Linked DNA regions of Homo sapiens: regions 1, 2 and 3 are each reported to be linked to region 4. The links are microRNA targets in miRTarBase. Many come from high-throughput screens and were not tested one by one. Region 4 holds a microRNA gene; each other region holds the end of a gene's coding sequence.

What was found. The annotated mature microRNA hsa-miR-500b-3p reads GCACCCAGGCAAGGAUUCUG and lies in region 4 at 1,560-1,579, shown strand. An mRNA with a match to its seed (bases 2 to 7 or 8) in the 3' UTR can be bound and repressed. Matches are read on the target gene's strand: a 7mer-m8 pairs with bases 2 to 8, a 7mer-A1 pairs with bases 2 to 7 and ends in A, and an 8mer does both.
Region 1: the mRNA of AP3B2 is a reported target of hsa-miR-500b-3p. The part of its 3' UTR that is shown has no 7-base or 8-base seed match.
Region 2: the mRNA of STAR is a reported target of hsa-miR-500b-3p. Seed matches in the 3' UTR shown: 7mer-m8 at 1,428-1,434 and 7mer-m8 at 1,561-1,567.
Region 3: miRTarBase lists ZBTB8A as a target of hsa-miR-500b-3p. The part of its 3' UTR that is shown has no 7-base or 8-base seed match.

The regions. Positions count from the first base shown.
Region 1 is chr15:82,656,286-82,660,285 of GRCh38, forward strand. It overlaps AP3B2 (adaptor related protein complex 3 subunit beta 2), which reads right to left. Exons shown (of 27, transcript NM_001278512.2): 26 at 3,560-3,698; 27 at 2,996-3,425. The coding sequence ends at 3,275. The region is part of intron 3 of CPEB1-AS1 (CPEB1 antisense RNA 1); the gene reads left to right. Among named protein-coding and RNA genes, the nearest start is that of CPEB1-AS1, 11 kb to the left of the region's middle.
Region 2 is chr8:38,141,030-38,145,029 of GRCh38, reverse strand. STAR (steroidogenic acute regulatory protein) reads left to right here. Exons shown (of 7, transcript NM_000349.3): 7 at 644-2,330. The coding sequence ends at 757. Among named protein-coding and RNA genes, the nearest start is that of STAR, 7.9 kb to the left of the region's middle.
Region 3 is chr1:32,599,916-32,603,915 of GRCh38, reverse strand. ZBTB8A (zinc finger and BTB domain containing 8A) reads right to left here. Exons shown (of 5, transcript NM_001040441.3): 5 at 1-3,829. The coding sequence ends at 3,497. Among named protein-coding and RNA genes, the nearest start is that of ZBTB8OS, 49 kb to the left of the region's middle.
Region 4 is chrX:50,009,163-50,013,462 of GRCh38, forward strand. MIR500B (microRNA 500b) reads left to right here and starts at 1,510; the gene lies at 1,510-1,588. The region is part of intron 3 of CLCN5 (chloride voltage-gated channel 5); the gene reads left to right. It overlaps MIR501 (microRNA 501), which reads left to right and starts at 560; the gene lies at 560-643. It overlaps MIR660 (microRNA 660), which reads left to right and starts at 4,079; the gene lies at 4,079-4,175.

The DNA of each region.
Region 1 (4,000 bases), not on the chromosome of region 4:
ATCTCTACTAAAAATACAAAAAATTAGGCTGAGTGCAGTGTCTCACGCCTATAATCCCAGCACTTTGGGAGGCCAAGGCAGGCAGATCACGAGTCAGGAGTTCGAGACCAGCCTGACCAACATGGCGAAACCCCGTCTCTACTAAAAATATAAAAATTAGCCAAACGTGGTGGCACACGCCTGTAATCCCTAATCCCAGCTACTCAGGAGGCTGAGGCACGAGAATTGCTTGAACCCAGGAGGCGGAGGTTGCAGTGAGCGGAGATTGTGCCACCGCACTCCAACCTGGGCAACAGAGCAAGACTCTGTCTCCCAAAAAAAAAGAAAAAAAAAAAAAGGCTGTTCATGGGAAGCATTTTCCCTGCCAACTGAGATCCAGACACTCTGTGACCAGGCCCCTAATAACCTGGGGACAAAGTGTCACCACAGTGGCAAAGACTTGGGCCAGTGATAAAATACAGAATACGATATGGGTTGGGGAAAATGCCCCCGGGGGATGTGGGGGCCCCCAGCCCCTGCAGGTCTGACCTGCTTCCACCTGTGTGTGCTGGGCAGGCCCCCATCTTATCCCTGCACACTCGCTCAGGTATGCTCATGTGGTAGGGTTGTGGGAGGTATGGCCTTGGAAGAGATGGGCTGGGCTGGAACGAGAGCTGGGGCAACCACTCCCCCTTCCTCTGTGACTGAGATTCTCTCACTCCAGACCGTTCACTCAGCACAGAACAGGCCCCATGCTCCTCCTGGGTGGGAAATTGCTGCCCCACCAATCTCCCAGCCCAGCCTTCACCAGCAGCACACCACTCCCCGCTGGGCTCCTTCTGCAGTCATACTCTCCCCTGCCCACACCTTGCTCTCCTGCTTCCTGCCTCTCTCTTTGGTCAAACACCAGAACCATTTCCTTATGAAGAGTTGCTACTGCTAATGCCAAAGCCTGGGACACATTCCAGAGACACCAACACAGAGCCGTGAAGGTTCCAACTCTCTGGACTCTCAGGGTTGGAAATCCCAGTGCCCTTTCCAAGAGGTTCTGGGAACCTGGACTGTACTTGAGGAATGTTGTGGGACTTGCCTTTTGCACTTCTGGTTCCTACAGAATCCCATTTTTTTAAAAGGGGATTTTTTTTTAGAGGTAGGGTCTTGCTAGGTTGTCCAGGATAGAGTGCTATTCACAGGTGTAATAATAGTGCAATACAGCCCTGAACTCCTGGCCTCAAGCAGTTCTCCAGTCTCAGCCTTCTGAGTAGCTGGGACTACAGACACATGCCCAGCTCTACTCTGGGGCTTTTGATATAGAATAAAGGTGGGTAAGGGATTCTCTGATGGTCCTTGTTCAAATTTCTTAGAAAATCACCCTCACCCTCTCTCAGTGCTGTGGGTAGTGCTGATTCAGAGGCAAAAGTAAGACTGAATCTTACTTTTGACTGGAGGACCATCTCAGAATCTGCAGTGACAAAAACAGTGATCCCAGGGAGACTTTGGGGCCCCAGGCTCTCAGGGAAGCAGCAGCTCCAGCAGCTCTCTGGTGTCACAGTGCCCAGCAAGTCCCTGGAGCCAGAGGCAGGGCTGTCCCCTGGCACTGCCTTTGTTCTCCTTCTGTGAGAGGACAGCCACACCTGCTTCACCCCATCTTACCCATGAACAGACATGCTCAGGGATGCCTAAGTGGCAGGGCTGAGGGACAGTATGGCCAAGGGCCTAAAGTCTTGGTCACAGAGGATCAGAGGCTGAGGTTCAACATCTCAAACTAACTGGAGTGTGTTCCTTGTAACCCAGTCAATCAAGATGTTGTGAGGAAAGTGTTCCAAAATCAAAACCAAGTTTGAGTAACACTGCAGGCTGAGAGGTGGTCACAGTGTACATTAGCATAGTAAAAGTTCTGAGAAGACCTGTAGGAAATGAACTTATTTCACTTAAATCCAAGATTCCTAAACTTATTTGATCATAGACTTTGCAGGGGGCGGGAGGGTACAGAACACATCCTAATGGAACACCTTTTATACGTTTTAGAACCACTGCTCACTCAGCCTCTTTCTTCACCAGAAAAGGTGTCAGGGAGAGCCCTGACCCCCACTGCACCCACCAGGTTTGTTCCAGGTGTGAGCAGATGCTGGTGTCTTGTTACAAATACAGAATCTGCTGCTCTGCCTATGGAGTCGCCATTCTGTTGTTTCTTAATAAATTTGCTTTCACATTATTATTATTATTGTTATTATTATCTTGAGACAGAGTCTCACCCTGTCGTCCAGGCTAGAGTGTAATGGCACGATCTCAGCTCACTGCAACCTCTGCCTCCTGGGTTCAAGCGATTCTCCTGCCTCAGCCTCCCAAGTAGCTGGGATTACAGGTGCGCACCACCATGCCCAGCTAATTTTTTGTATCTTTAGTACAGATGGGATTTCGCCATGTTGGCCATGTTGGTCTTGACCTCGTGATTGGCCCACCTCAGCCTCCCAAAGTGCTGGGATTACAGGTGTGAGCCACCACGCCCGGCTGCTTTCACTTAAAAAAAAAATGCAGAATTTCAGACCCCACCCTAGACCTACTAATAGAATCTGCATGTGATGGGATCCCCAGGTGACTTGCCACAAAGTGGTTTGAGAAGTACAGTTATGCATCTTCTATTCTTCCACTAAGATGACCAGTGGGTCAGTACCCCAGCCAGGTGGGGCCTCCAGGCCCCCTAACTGGAGTAGTTGACATATGTTGAACTGAGCACCTGTGTTTGGGGAAGTCCCCATGTTATGAGTCCTTCCTTCCCAAGGGACCGTAAGAAGAACTAAGGGGGTCTGCCAGCCATTGAAGAGGACTTGTTTTTGCAGAGGCTATAAAAAGGACCAAGGTGCTCTTCCAGCTCTGCCTTGCCACCCCAGCCCAGATGTCTCTTCCACAGAGATGCCTGCAGACTCCTAGGCATCCTGACCCAGAGATGGTTACCTTGGGGATTCAACAAGAGTTGTTCCTGACAAACCCCTAGAAGGAAAGGTGAGCCAGCAGCTAGAGAGAAGACATTTTATTGAGCCTGCTACATAAATAGCTACAGAAATCTGGGAGGACTGAAGGGAGTGGCTGCCATCTCTCTCTGCACAGATCACTAAGGAATCCATGGGGAGGGCATTAGGGGAGGGCTTGGTCCTCCAGAGGGAGAGAGGACACCCTGAATGCTATCTGGCATGAGGAGGATGATGAGAGAGAGAGAGAAAGATGAGAGAGACTGACAGCCTAGGTGTCATGGGGAGGTATAGATGGGAGCCAAACAGGTCACAGCATTTGGAAGTCACTGGGTCAGAGCCTGTATCACATCCTTTACCAGCATGGTGCCAATCACCATTTTCTCGCTGTTGACAGTCAGCTGGGCAGCTCCAGCTGGCCGGGCATCCAGGGTCAGCAGAACGAGGCTTCCACCAGTCAGTGTCCTCCCTGCAAACCTGAGGTGGGAATAGAAGGGGTGAGGAAGAGCTGCTAAGGGTGACTGTGTTTGGAAGGGGATCAGCAGCTGGGGCTCCTCCTTCAAACCAGGGCCCCCATGCTCATCATTTCCCCTCTACTGGTGGCCTAGTACCTGTACTCATCAGATGTCCCACAAGGAACACGACCCAGGTTGGCAGTGGCAGTCACTTTCTGCACCACAATGTGGTCACTCCGACAGGTGTCTGGCAGCATGAGTTTCTCTGTGATCTCATTCATGCCCATCAGCTTTCCTGGGGGTAGAGGTCGTGATGAGGGCAGAGGCCATGGTGGGTACAGAGGCCAGCACCTGGGTCTGCTTACTGAGCAACAAGTTCTCCCAGGCTGGGAAGGTATCATGCAAAGGGCAGGTCAGAATTTAAATCATCAGTCTTGGGGAGAAGGTACTTCCCTCTCAGACTGGGCCCTCCCTCAGGAAGCCTTTGTCAGCCTCTCTACCCCTCCCACCCAGGCCTTTATCCATGTTGTTACCAAAGACTGATTTGGCGCTTCCTCCATCAGACATCTGGGCTACCAGCCCCTTGAGAGTGGCCAG
Region 2 (4,000 bases), not on the chromosome of region 4:
TTTTTTTTTTTTTTTTTTTTCGAGACTCAGTTTCATTCTGTCACTCAGGCTGGAGTACAATGACATGGTCTCAGCTCACCGTAACCTCCGCCTCCCGGATTCAAGTGATTCTTCCGCCTCAGCCTCCTGAGTAGCTGGAACTACAGGCGTGTGCCACCACACATGGCTAATTTTTGTATTTTTAGTAGAGACGGGGTTTCACTATGGTGGCCAGGCTGGTCTCAAACTCCTGACCTCGTGATCTGCCTGCCTCCAAAAGTGCTGGGATTACAGGCGTGAGCCACTGCGCCTGGCCCTCTTCTGTCTCACAGCAAAGTTCAACTCTTATATGTAGTTATCATTTTAGAAAGAAGGAAACTTAGGTCCAGAGATCTGAAGGGTGAAAAAGGCAACATAACTGGTTCAGGGTCACACAGCTGGGAACACCAGGCTGAAACATCTTGTTGGCCAGTCTTGTGCTTCTGAAAGTCATGACAGCAGAGGAGCAATGCAGTCCTCCCGCCCTTGACTGGGCAACTCCAAGGCTGCACCTATTAACAGAGCTCGAAGACCAAGCCCCTGGCAGCCTGTTTGTGATAGGGTGCAGTGTCAAGAGTGGGCCAAAACCCACAAGATGGCCAAATTCTCCTACCTCCTACTGCAGGGGTGGCTGCCCAAGAGCATCATCAACCAGGTCCTGTCCCAGACCCAGGTGGATTTTGCCAACCACCTGCGCAAGCGCCTGGAGTCCCACCCTGCCTCTGAAGCCAGGTGTTGAAGACCAGCCTGCTGTTCCCAACTGTGCCCAGCTGCACTGGTACACACGCTCATCAGGAGAATCCCTACTGGAAGCCTGCAAGTCTAAGATCTCCATCTGGTGACAGTGGGATGGGTGGGGTTCGTGTTTAGAGTATGACACTAGGATTCAGATTGGTGAAAGTTTTTAGTACCAAGAAAACAGGGATGAGGCTCTTGGATTAAAAGGTAACTTCATTCACTGATTAGCTATGACATGAGGGTTCAGGCCCCTAAAATAATTGTAAAACTTTTTTTCTGGGCCCTTATGTACCCACCTAAAACCATCTTTAAAATGCTAGTGGCTGATATGGGTGTGGGGGATGCTAACCACAGGGCCTGAGAAGTCTTGCTTTATGGGCTCAAGAATGCCATGCGCTGGCAGTACATGTGCACAAAGCAGAATCTCAGAGGGTCTCCTGCAGCCCTCTGCTCCTCCCGGCCGCTGCACAGCAACACCACAGAACAAGCAGCACCCCACAGTGGGTGCCTTCCAGAAATATAGTCCAAGCTTTCTCTGTGGAAAAAGACAAAACTCATTAGTAGACATGTTTCCCTATTGCTTTCATAGGCACCAGTCAGAATAAAGAATCATAATTCACACAAACATCAGTCTTTGTTTTAATATTGTACTGTTAAAAAAATCTATGCAGCTGGGTGCAGTGGCTCACGCCTGTAATCCCAGCATTTTGGGAGGCTGAGGTAGGCGGATCACAAGGTCAGGAGATCGAGACCATCCTGGCCAACATGGTGAAACCCCGTCTCTACTAAAATACAAAAAATTAGCTGGGTGTGGTGGCGCAAACCTGTAGTCGTAGCTACTTGGGAGGCTGAGGCAGGGGAATCACTTGAACCCCGGAGGCGGAGGTTGTAGTGGGCCGAGATTGTGCCACTGCGCTCCAGCGTGGGCGACAGAGTGAGACTCCATCTCAAAAAAAAAAAAAAAAAAATCTATGCTAGTAGATTACAACTTCACACTAGAGGAGTTCTGGACAAAGCTTTTAATTAGTCAAACTAAATTAAGGCTCATTAAAAGGAAAGGAACTACTGGGAAATTATGCAATTCAATAATTTAGACTCTGTTACCAGGATCTTTCATAAAAATTTAATTTCCATAATCATAACCTAAATGAGTTCTTAAAGAATTCTATAAGCAATAGCTGATTAATGGGCCCTGGAAGATGAAGATTATAACTGTTTATTTACCTAATTAAAAGGAAAGGCAGTGCCAAATATGAGAGGATAAACAATATTAGTTAACATTTCTGTTATTTATGATGCCAATTAGTAGTAAGATAATTCCACAGCTGTCAACTTTGTTTGGGGCTGGCAACTTCTCTGCTTAAACAGGCTAAAAGTTTAGTATTCTGGGAGAAGTGGCTGGAAGAAGGGGTAATATGGTGAAAGCAAATTCCCTTTCCCAGGAGTCAAGAGAATTTATGTGAGGTGGCTCCCGCCTGTAATCTCAGCACTTTGGGAGGCCAAGGCAGGCAATCACCTGAGGGCAGGAGACCAGCCTGACTAACATGGAGAAACCCCATCTCTACTAAAAATACAAAATGAGCTGGGCGTGGTGGTGCATGCCTGTAATCCCAGCTACTTGGGAGGCTGAGGCAGGAGAATCGCCTGAACCCGGGAGGCGGAGGTTGAAGTGAGCCAAGATCGAGCCACTGTACTCCAGCCTGGGCGACAGAGCGAGGCTGTCTTAAAAAAAAAAAAAAAATTATACACACACACACACACACACACACACACACACACACATTGGGATGGGAGGGGGGTAGGGAGGATGAAAAAATCACCATTACCACCTGAAGCTTTTCCATTCTTGTTTTAATAGCATTGATGATTTGCACCATTTGGAGATAGAGCTCTGGCTTATTTATTATAAAACAGGAGCTGGGCACAGTGGTGCCTACCCACAATGCCAGCTACTCTGAAGGCTGAGGTGGGAGAATTGCTGGAGGGCAATTCGAAACCAGTCTGGGCAAGATAGTGAGACCTCATCTCAAAAAAAAAAAAAGAAGGAAAAAACAAAGGAGTTGATGAAACCAAATTATGACAAACTAAATTAAAAAATTAAAAAATAGCATTAGTGGGAACACTGTGGTATTTCCTGAGGTATTAAAATTTTACAACTAGTAAAGGTATTTATTATAATTTATTCGGATTGTTTCTTAGTTTATTTTTGACATGGATAAAATTATTGTTTATCTAGGAGCCTCAGAGTTGAGAGAGGATAGTTGTAGAGAAGTATTTCTAAAATGGAATTATCATCCACTACCAGCTAAGAGAAAATAGTTACTTGTTTAAAGATACCTTAAAGCAACATATATTGTAGTTTCAAGAGAACAGGCTGACAGTCAAGAAATAGGCTTTTAACAAACCCACTGGTTTGCTGGATTCTAATTGCCTCCTTCAAACTATGTAATTGTGTCTTTCTGGTTTCTGTGGAGATATTTTCCCACTTGTTTAATTTTACACTGGAATAAAACAAGTTATCACTGTTGATCTGATTACAGAAACTATTTTATATAGGACGCTGTGAAGAGTAGATATTCTCTGAGCCCTTCAAATGAACTGTATTAAAACACACACACACTTTTGAAGTTTGAGAAGAACATCATTACCTGTAACCTTTGATTTGTGAAAATATATACAAAAAGCTAATTTTATAATTTAGATGGAGAGTGTGTATACAACTTATATGTGGTAATTTATATTACAAAGAGTTAACATTCAGCTTCCTCTAAATAACACCACCCTCATTTTCTTGGAGTACCTCAAACTCCGATGATCTAGAAGCTTTATAACCAGGTCTGCCCTTGAAGACTAGTTCACGCATTAATAGGTGTCTAGGGCTGAGCCTCAGCCTCCAATCACACTCGACCTGTATAGGCTTTCCTGTTCAGAGATATGCAGTGGCCAAATCAAAGTGTCTGGGTGATTCATCGGGAGACAAATATATTAATCAATGCTACTATGTTAAAATACCAATATTGTCTTGAAGTGTGGGAACTCTCTTAAACAGGAAAATGATAAGATATTCAGAAGAGCCACAGGCATAACATGGTGATTCTGCAGCAGCATGTCACCCTCCAGTGGTGAGCCACTCTACTTATTAACCGAGGTAGAGAGGTAAATGCAGGAGGGACTTTGGGCAATCCTGGGAGGGCTGTCTTTGCCGTAAGACTGATGTATTGAAAAAAGGAAGACAGGCCGGGTG
Region 3 (4,000 bases), not on the chromosome of region 4:
TGCTATAACTGGAGTCATTATTTACAACTTACAAACATGTCTTAAATGTTCTTCTATGATGTTAAAATGATACAACAGATTCTTTGTCTAGTTTGGTGAACTTGATCATTTTGTGGGGATAGTTTGATGCTCGTTATAAACAATTATGAGAAAGCATTATTTCTGAAAAGGCAATTACAAGTGCTGGTGGCACTGTGTTCAGTGAATGTTGGATATTCATGCTGATGTATGTAAAGTTTGCATGCAGAAGATAATAGCATAAAAGGACATTTAGATCATAGACTAAAGTGCATTAGAGTACACACATGCAAGCACTACTTCATTTATAGGAAAAAAGTTCAAATCAGCCATTTTTCCTACTGGCTCCAACAACTAAAAAATCAGGTTTTAATTTCAAAAGGTGTCAGTATTAATTGGGTAAGACTAGAGAATGACAAGCGTTTCCTTCCTCATTCAGATACACTTTAATTGTTAAGAATCCTGATTTAGGCCGGGCGTGCTGGCTCACGCCTGTAATCCCAGCACTTTGGGAGGCTGAGGCGGGCAGATCACGAGGTCAGGAGTTCGAGACCAGCCTGGCCAACATAGCGAAACCCTGTCTCTACTAAAAATACAAAAATTAGCCAGGCATGGTGGCACATGCCTGTAGTCCCGGCTACTCAGGAGGCTGAGGCAGGAGAATCGCTTGAACCCGGGAGGCAGAGGTTGTGGTGAGCGAGATCACGCCACTGCACTCCAGCTTGGACAACAGAGCGAGAGTCCATCTCAAAAAAACCAGAATCCTGATTTAGGAACAGCCATGTTGGGAGAACAGAGAACTCAATGCACATCATCCAGTCTTGAAGCAACTGCAAATGTGCCATCAGGGGAATCTTGAAAAAGTCTCAATTAAGTACCATGAAACAAGTGGTTATTCATCTATTTTTAAATTTTTTAAAAGAAAGTAACCAATTTAGCCTAGAAATTGGTATCAAGGACAATAATTAATGAAAGAACAAGAGAAAATAGTAACATAAAAAGGATAATTTTGAGGTATGTCATGGCATTTAAAAATACAGTAAAATTGGCTGGGCGCAGTGGCTCACGCCTGTAATCCCAGCACTTTGGGAGGCCGAGGGGGGCGGATCACGAGATCAGGAGATTGAGACCATCCTGGCTAACACGGTGAAACCCCATCTCTATTAAAAATACAAAAAATTAGCTGGGAGTGGTGGTGGGCGCCTGTAAGTCCCAGCTACTCGGGAGGCTGAGGCAGGAGAATGGCGAGAACCCGGGAGGTGGAGCTTGCAGTGAGCTGAGATTGCACCACTGCACTCCAGCCTGGGCGACAGAGCGAGACTCCGTCTCGAAAAAAAAACAAAAACAAAAAAGAAAACAGTAAAATAGATGGAGCCTCTCCATATACAGTGAAATTCTATCAAGCTTCACTGTGATAACTTGCAGAAGAGACCTTTATGAAGCTCAGTTCTTTACTTCGGATATTTAGATTTTACCTTTAGAACTGAAACAATGCTTCTCTAATTTAGCTGTAATTTTGGAATGTTTCATAATTTATGCAGGGGAGAAGTTTTTTTTTTTTTTTTTTTTGAGACGGAGTTTCGCTCTTGTTGCCCAGGCTGGAGTGCAATGGCGCAACCTCAGCCCACCGCAGCCTCTGCCTCCTGGGTTCAAGCTATCCTCCTGCCTCAGCCTTCTGAGTAGCTGGGATTACAGGCATGCACCACCACGCCCGGCTAATTTTGTATTTTTAGTAGAGACGGGGTTTCTCCATGTTGGTCAGGCTGGTCTCAAACTCCCGACCTCGGTGATCCACCTGCCTCAGCCTCCCAAAGTGCTGGGATTACAGGCGTGAGCCACTGGGCCCAGCCCAAAGGGGAGAAGTTTAAACTTTGTATACTAGGAGAAAAGTTTGTTTTGAAAATATTATATAAACAAGAGAAGCAAAAATGTTCAACATATTTAAGTGAATAATTTGTTCAAATAGTTTTATACTTTAAATTTACATATAAATAACGTGACATAAAAACATACCAATAGGTACTGTAGGGACATTACTTAGCATTATTTGAAAATCTCTAGATCAAGATATTGTATGTTGTTGAAAATGATTCAATTCCTCCTTTCATACTTTCTAATTCTGATTGGCTTATTTTTATAATGACTGCCAACTGGTGAGGTTTGACTTCTATTCTTTGCCATTTCAGGAGACATACAGGGAGAGAAGGCTGAAAGAGGATTGTTTAAAATCAGATCCTGTCCAATCATCAGTTTTCTCTCTCAGACTTTCTGACCTTAATTTCCTCATTTGTAAATCGGAGATAGTATCCACCTCACTGAGAAAATACATGAGAGAGTACTTTATAAATAATATAGCACTACATAAACGTTAGAAATCACTCACATATGGTAAGAACCTCCTAGTTTGTTTTCCTTTTTTTTTTGAGACGGAGTTTCGCTCTTGTTGCCCAGGCTGGAGTGCAATGGTGTGATCTCGGCTCACTGCAACTTCTGCCTTCCAGGTTCAATCGATTCTCCTGCCTCAGCCTCCCGAGTAGCTGGGATTATAGGCACCCGCCACCATGCCCGGCTAATTTTGTATTTTTTAGTAGAGACGAGGTTTCACCATGTTGGCCAGGCTGGTTTCAAACTCCTGACCTTGTGATCCGCCTGCCTCGGCCTCCCAAAGTATTGGGATTATAGGCATGAGCCACAGCGCCCAGCCTGCTTTTCTTTAGAGAGATGGACAACCATATTGACAGATTGTCTTCACAAACTACCTTGACTTTTAGGCAACATTAGTTTCCTGCTTTAAGAAAATATCTGTATATAATCTTTGGCCAGCCTCTACTTTTTTTTTTTTTTAACAATACTGAGAGTAATTTTTAAGCTAATGATAAAAATTTCAAATATGAATGATTTCAAACACTTTAGTCTTCTTCCATAATCCTTAAACGTTCAGGATATCAGAGTAATGACAGGTTGTTTCAGATCTCAAATTAATAGAAAGACTAATTTGTTTAGTAAGGTGGGTTGCCAGATCCTTAAATGTGCTCTTAACTGGTTCCCTGTGAAATTAAACATTGGTAGTTATGTGTTTTTGAAACACCTTGAAATTGTCTTACATAAAGTTTGGTTGTGGTGAATTTATTTAAAGTATTTTCTTTGAAAAAAGTTTGCTAAGTAGATCCTCCAATATTAAAAGAAAAAGGTATCTCTGGAATAAAGTAAGAGGATTGTAATGAAAGTAAGAGGATAATTGTTCATCCATCAAGCCAACTCAAGCTAGTTCTTTCTTTCCAGTGCAGCAACACATTTTAGGGCAACAAAGTTCAGAATGGATACAATGGCCTGTTCAGAAAGCATGCAAGTTATATCAGATCATTTCTTTAAAGTCAGTGTGATAAATTTGTTAACTAGACTCCGACCATAGAAAGAGAGAGATACAGGAAGTCAATGTAAATTGCAGACATGCCAGCTCTGTTGGTTCACATTACAGCTACCTAATGTTGGGCTTAATTTCTTTTTCTTCTTCTTCTTCACTATCATCAACCTGTTGGATGACCAGATCAGCAGACCCATCTTCTACAATCTCCACATAGGATCTATTCTCATCTTCACTCAAGTGCCATCTGGAATCCTTATCTCCATCTGATGGGGACATAAGATGTTGTTCAGCTTCCAAGTCAATGGGGAGGCTGTCTATGCCAAATTCTGCAAGACACTCATTACACAGTCTGTAGCGCCTGGTTCCCTCCTGTACCACTTGCCCTGTTAGATCTGTCACATGACGTTTACATTTTCTGCAGATGAGTTTACATGCCTGGTGAATCTGTGTAGAGATTTAAATAGTGATAAAAGTGATTTTTCAAAAGCAGGACAGTTTGATATTTTAGGTACCAGTTCATAAACTTAAGATGTTCAAAGCCATGCATTAAACTCAAATTAACATCTATTATTTAGAGAAAGATCAAGGGTTTTAGTGGTGAATTGATGTCACAGA
Region 4 (4,300 bases):
TGGGCTCTGTAGAGGGCACCTGTGGGAGAATGAACTTCATCATTGCCCTGGACAAGCTTACACCTCTTTGAGAGCATGAGCTTTCTGTTTACTCCCAGCTTACTATGTGTCAGATACTGTAATGGGGAAACACACATTGGGTGATGAGACTTGCACAGCCAGTCTTTGCTCTCAGTGAGCTTATAGTTTACCAGAGAAACAGAAGAGAATGAAGTATCCCAATTTTCTGTACCATCTTCCAACATGTGCATGTACATGTGTGCCCACATACAGTTTGTCCCAACCTCCTTGCTAGGCCCCAAATACATCCAGCACCTGCAGACCCTCAAGTGTGATCTGAAAAAGATGCCACTCATATCTTTCATTCTAGTCTGAGGTTTTGTCTGAGAGGGCATGTCCATGTGGCCTTGTGCAGGGGGATGAATACATATGCTATCCCTGAGGAGAGGCATCTGTCTTAGCAAATGCACACAGAGATACTTTGCAGGAATGGGACCATGAAAGTCAAATATATATGGAGATATACATGCAGGGTGCAGGTGCCTGAGTCTTCTGCTCTGCTCTTCCTCTCTAATCCTTTGTCCCTGGGTGAGAGTGCTTTCTGAATGCAATGCACCCGGGCAAGGATTCTGAGAGGGTGAGCCCCCTCTGCGTGGAGAACAGAAGATCTGTATGTCACCTCTCAGCTGCTTGCTGCTTGCCTGCCTGCTCTCTGACCCTCATTCATTCTTTCCTTCCACAAATAATATGTATTGGGCACCATGATGGGCATTGGACACAGAGAAATGAACAAGGCAGACTTCGCCCCTGCCTTCCTGGATATTATAGCCTGAGAGGAGAATGGACTTTGTCACCACTCATTGCCCCTGCATATACTGAGGGTGAGTGGGCCACATAGGAACTTCTTATCTACCCTCTTCCCACCTTAACCCACCCATAAGTGTGAGTCTTCTCATTCCTGCTGTCACATTGATACTTGTTTCTTGTTTTTTCCTTCTTTCCTTCCTTCCTTCTTTTCTTTTTCTTTCTCTTTCTTTTCTTTCTTTCCTTCCTTTCCTTTCCTTTCTTTTCTTCTCTCTTTTCTTTTCTTTCTTTTTTGATGGAGTATTGCTCTGTTGCTCAGGCTGGAGTGCACTGGCACCATCACAGTTCACTGCAGCCTCAACCACCTGGGCTCAAGCGATCCTCCCACCTCAGCCTCTCAAATAGCTGGGACCACAGGCTTGTGCCACCATGCCTGGCTAATTTGTGTTTATTTTTTGTAGAGATGGGGTCTCACTATGTTGCCCAAGCTGGTCTCAAACTCCTAGGCTCAAGCAGTCCACCAGCCTTAGCCTCCCAAAGTGTTGGGATTATAGGTGTGAGCCACTGCACCCAGCCTGATACTTGTCGAAGCAACTTCTCTCTACTTTAGTTCAATGCAAGGTTAATGCACTAGGCAAGAACAGCAAGCCTTCTTGTTAGATGCACATGTGAGGTGTACAGGTACTGGAATCTCCTGTCCTGGTTCCCCCTCTCTAATCCTTGCTACCTGGGTGAGAGTGCTTTCTGAATGCAGTGCACCCAGGCAAGGATTCTGCAAGGGGGAGTGACATCTTCGCATAGGACAGAGCACTTCTACCTCCTCCTTCCATCCTTTCTATGACTATTTGTTGAGTACCTACCTACTCTATTGCAGGTGCTGTCCTGGGCAGTTGGCCCACAAGAGAATGAGCCATATCTGGTTCCCTACCTTCATGGAGTGTACAGTTCAGGGAGGAGAATGGACTCCTTCTCATTCATTATATCTGCATGTCCTGAGGGTGGGTGGGGTACAGGGTGGGTGGGGTACAGATACATGTTGGAGAATCTACTAAACCTCAGTACAATCACACATAAATACGCTGTGTGCAAGAGAAAGGGCCTGACTTGGTTACATCCACAGAGACATGTCCTCACAGAGTGGTCCCTCTGACCTGGTGCATCACTCACATTCTTTCAGCCTGTGTGCCAGTACTGCCTTGACTCACTGTCCCTTTTCAAGAATTCCAAGGGAAGAAGCCTTGTCTACACTTAAAAGGACAGAGCTTTTGCACATCAACTCTCCCTCCTCTTCCTTCCACAGATACTCAAGTGTCTATTAGACAGCAGGTATTATGTTCATCACCAAGGATATAGCAGGGATCAAAATGGACAGGTTGCTACCCTACATTCTGGTAGGGACTCATAAACACACTATACATAAATGTTGTGGATGAATAGGCCACTGTTCAAAAGAATGAAGTAGATCTATATGTTCCTTGTTACCCAGTCTGCATGCACAAGCATGTGCAGGTTCTGCTCAAGTGAAATTCTCAAATGTCCCCAATCCTTGTACACCAGACACACTCAGAGACATGGCCCTGCATGCAGAGAACCCCACCTACTGAAAGGGTAGGAGATGGAGCCTGTTGTGCTCTCCTCTCTCCCATTCTCAGCGTGCAAGCCAGTGAGCTTCCTTAACTCCCTTATAGATGGGGATTAAATGAGGGAAGTCTTCTTACTGCTACTTTCCTTCTTGCTGCTCTGTATAGGAGAGATCCTTTCATTACTTTTCTGTACAGTCACAGATGAACACACTATATGCGGTGAGCCTTCCCTGTAAACCCATGTGAGCACATGTGCACACACGCACACGTGCACACACACATACTCTGTATGGCTGCTTGGGCCTTCAGTCCTGTTCCCCCTCTTGAATCCTGGTACCTGGATGCAAGTGCTGTGTCAATGCGGTGCACCCAGGCAAGCATTCCACGGCTGAGCCTTTTCTGCATAGAGCGAAGAACACCTGTTTATAATCCCCATCCTTCATTCATTCCCACCTTTAACAAGCAGGGGTGGCGCTCCTGTCATGCACCAGACATGGAGAGACAGGGTGGTCAAGAAAGACACAGAACTCATACTCACATGCCTAGTGAGCATGTTTAAGAGAAGGAACTTCCGTTGCCCACATTGTTCATGCATACGTATGTAGCAGAGAGTGAGTCTTCCCATCATCCCCTCTCCAACCCCCCAACAGTGCTCAGCTAGAGAACTACAAAAGGTGTGTCTCCCCTTACACAGAGCTGCAGCCACAGTGTGCATAGGATAATGAGTGTCATTAGCAGCATCTTCTCACTCATGTCTGGTGTGCAAGGCAATAGGCTTTCTACTTGCTGCTTATGCCACCAGAGCTTGAAGGAAAGTGGCCCTACTTGTCAGTCATCTCACACATGCATATGAAGAAAAGACACTTCACCTTTGTATGGTCATAGGAAAATCACCTGTGAGCCAGAGAGTGCTGTTTCTTTTGTACATACACACAAACACAATGGATTTGAAGATGCTCGAGCCTTCTATTCAGGTTGTCCCTCTCTTTCATTCTTCGTAGTTGGGTACAAATGCTATTCCAGTCCATTGCCTTGTACAAAAATTCAGAGAGGGAATCTCATCCATGTTTAAAAGTGTAGAGTCTTTGCATCACCCCTCTATGTCCCATTATTTCATTTCTTTAAGTTATGTATAGAGCAGTGGTTCTCAGTGTGGTCCCTGGGCCAGCAGCATCTGTATCACCTAGGAGCTTGTTCAAAATGCCAATTCTTGGGCTCATCCCTGACCTACTACACCATAAACCATGGAAATCTGTACTTTACCAAGGCTCTCAACTGATTCTGATGCTCACTTAAGTTTGAGAATCACTGATTTAGTATAAGTGCTAGCTAGGGGCAGTGATAAGCTAGTCAGGTGAAGGGTGGAAGAGAATGAGCTCCTGCATTGCTCATGTACGTTCCCAATGCCGAGTCCATGCAGACTGTGGCAGGGAAGCCATCATTTCATTACTGTCTCCACCTCCTCCATAACCACACATTCAGTGAGCACATGAGGCTAAGTGAACACACAACAAGTACTTTATTAGGGAATAGACTTGGCACTGCTTCTCCAGGCGTGCACCTGACACTTTAATCTCAATCTGTCTCTCTCTCAATCAATCAATCAATCTCTCTCCTCTCTCTCTCTTTCTCTCTTTCTGTCTTTCTTTCTCTCTCCTCCCCCACCCCCCTCCCATGTGCAGAAGAATGAACTGCTCCTTCTCCCATACCCATTGCATATCGGAGTTGTGAATTCTCAAAACACCTCCTGTGTGCATGGATTACAGGAGGGTGAGCCTTGTCATCGTGAATCTTCTGCTGAACAATCCAAGTAGCCCGTGTTTATTGCGCACTTTTGATGTGCCATGAGCTGTGCTGGGAGTACCCTGCTAAATAATGGACAGTGTCTCTCTCCGGGACTTCCTATCTAGTGG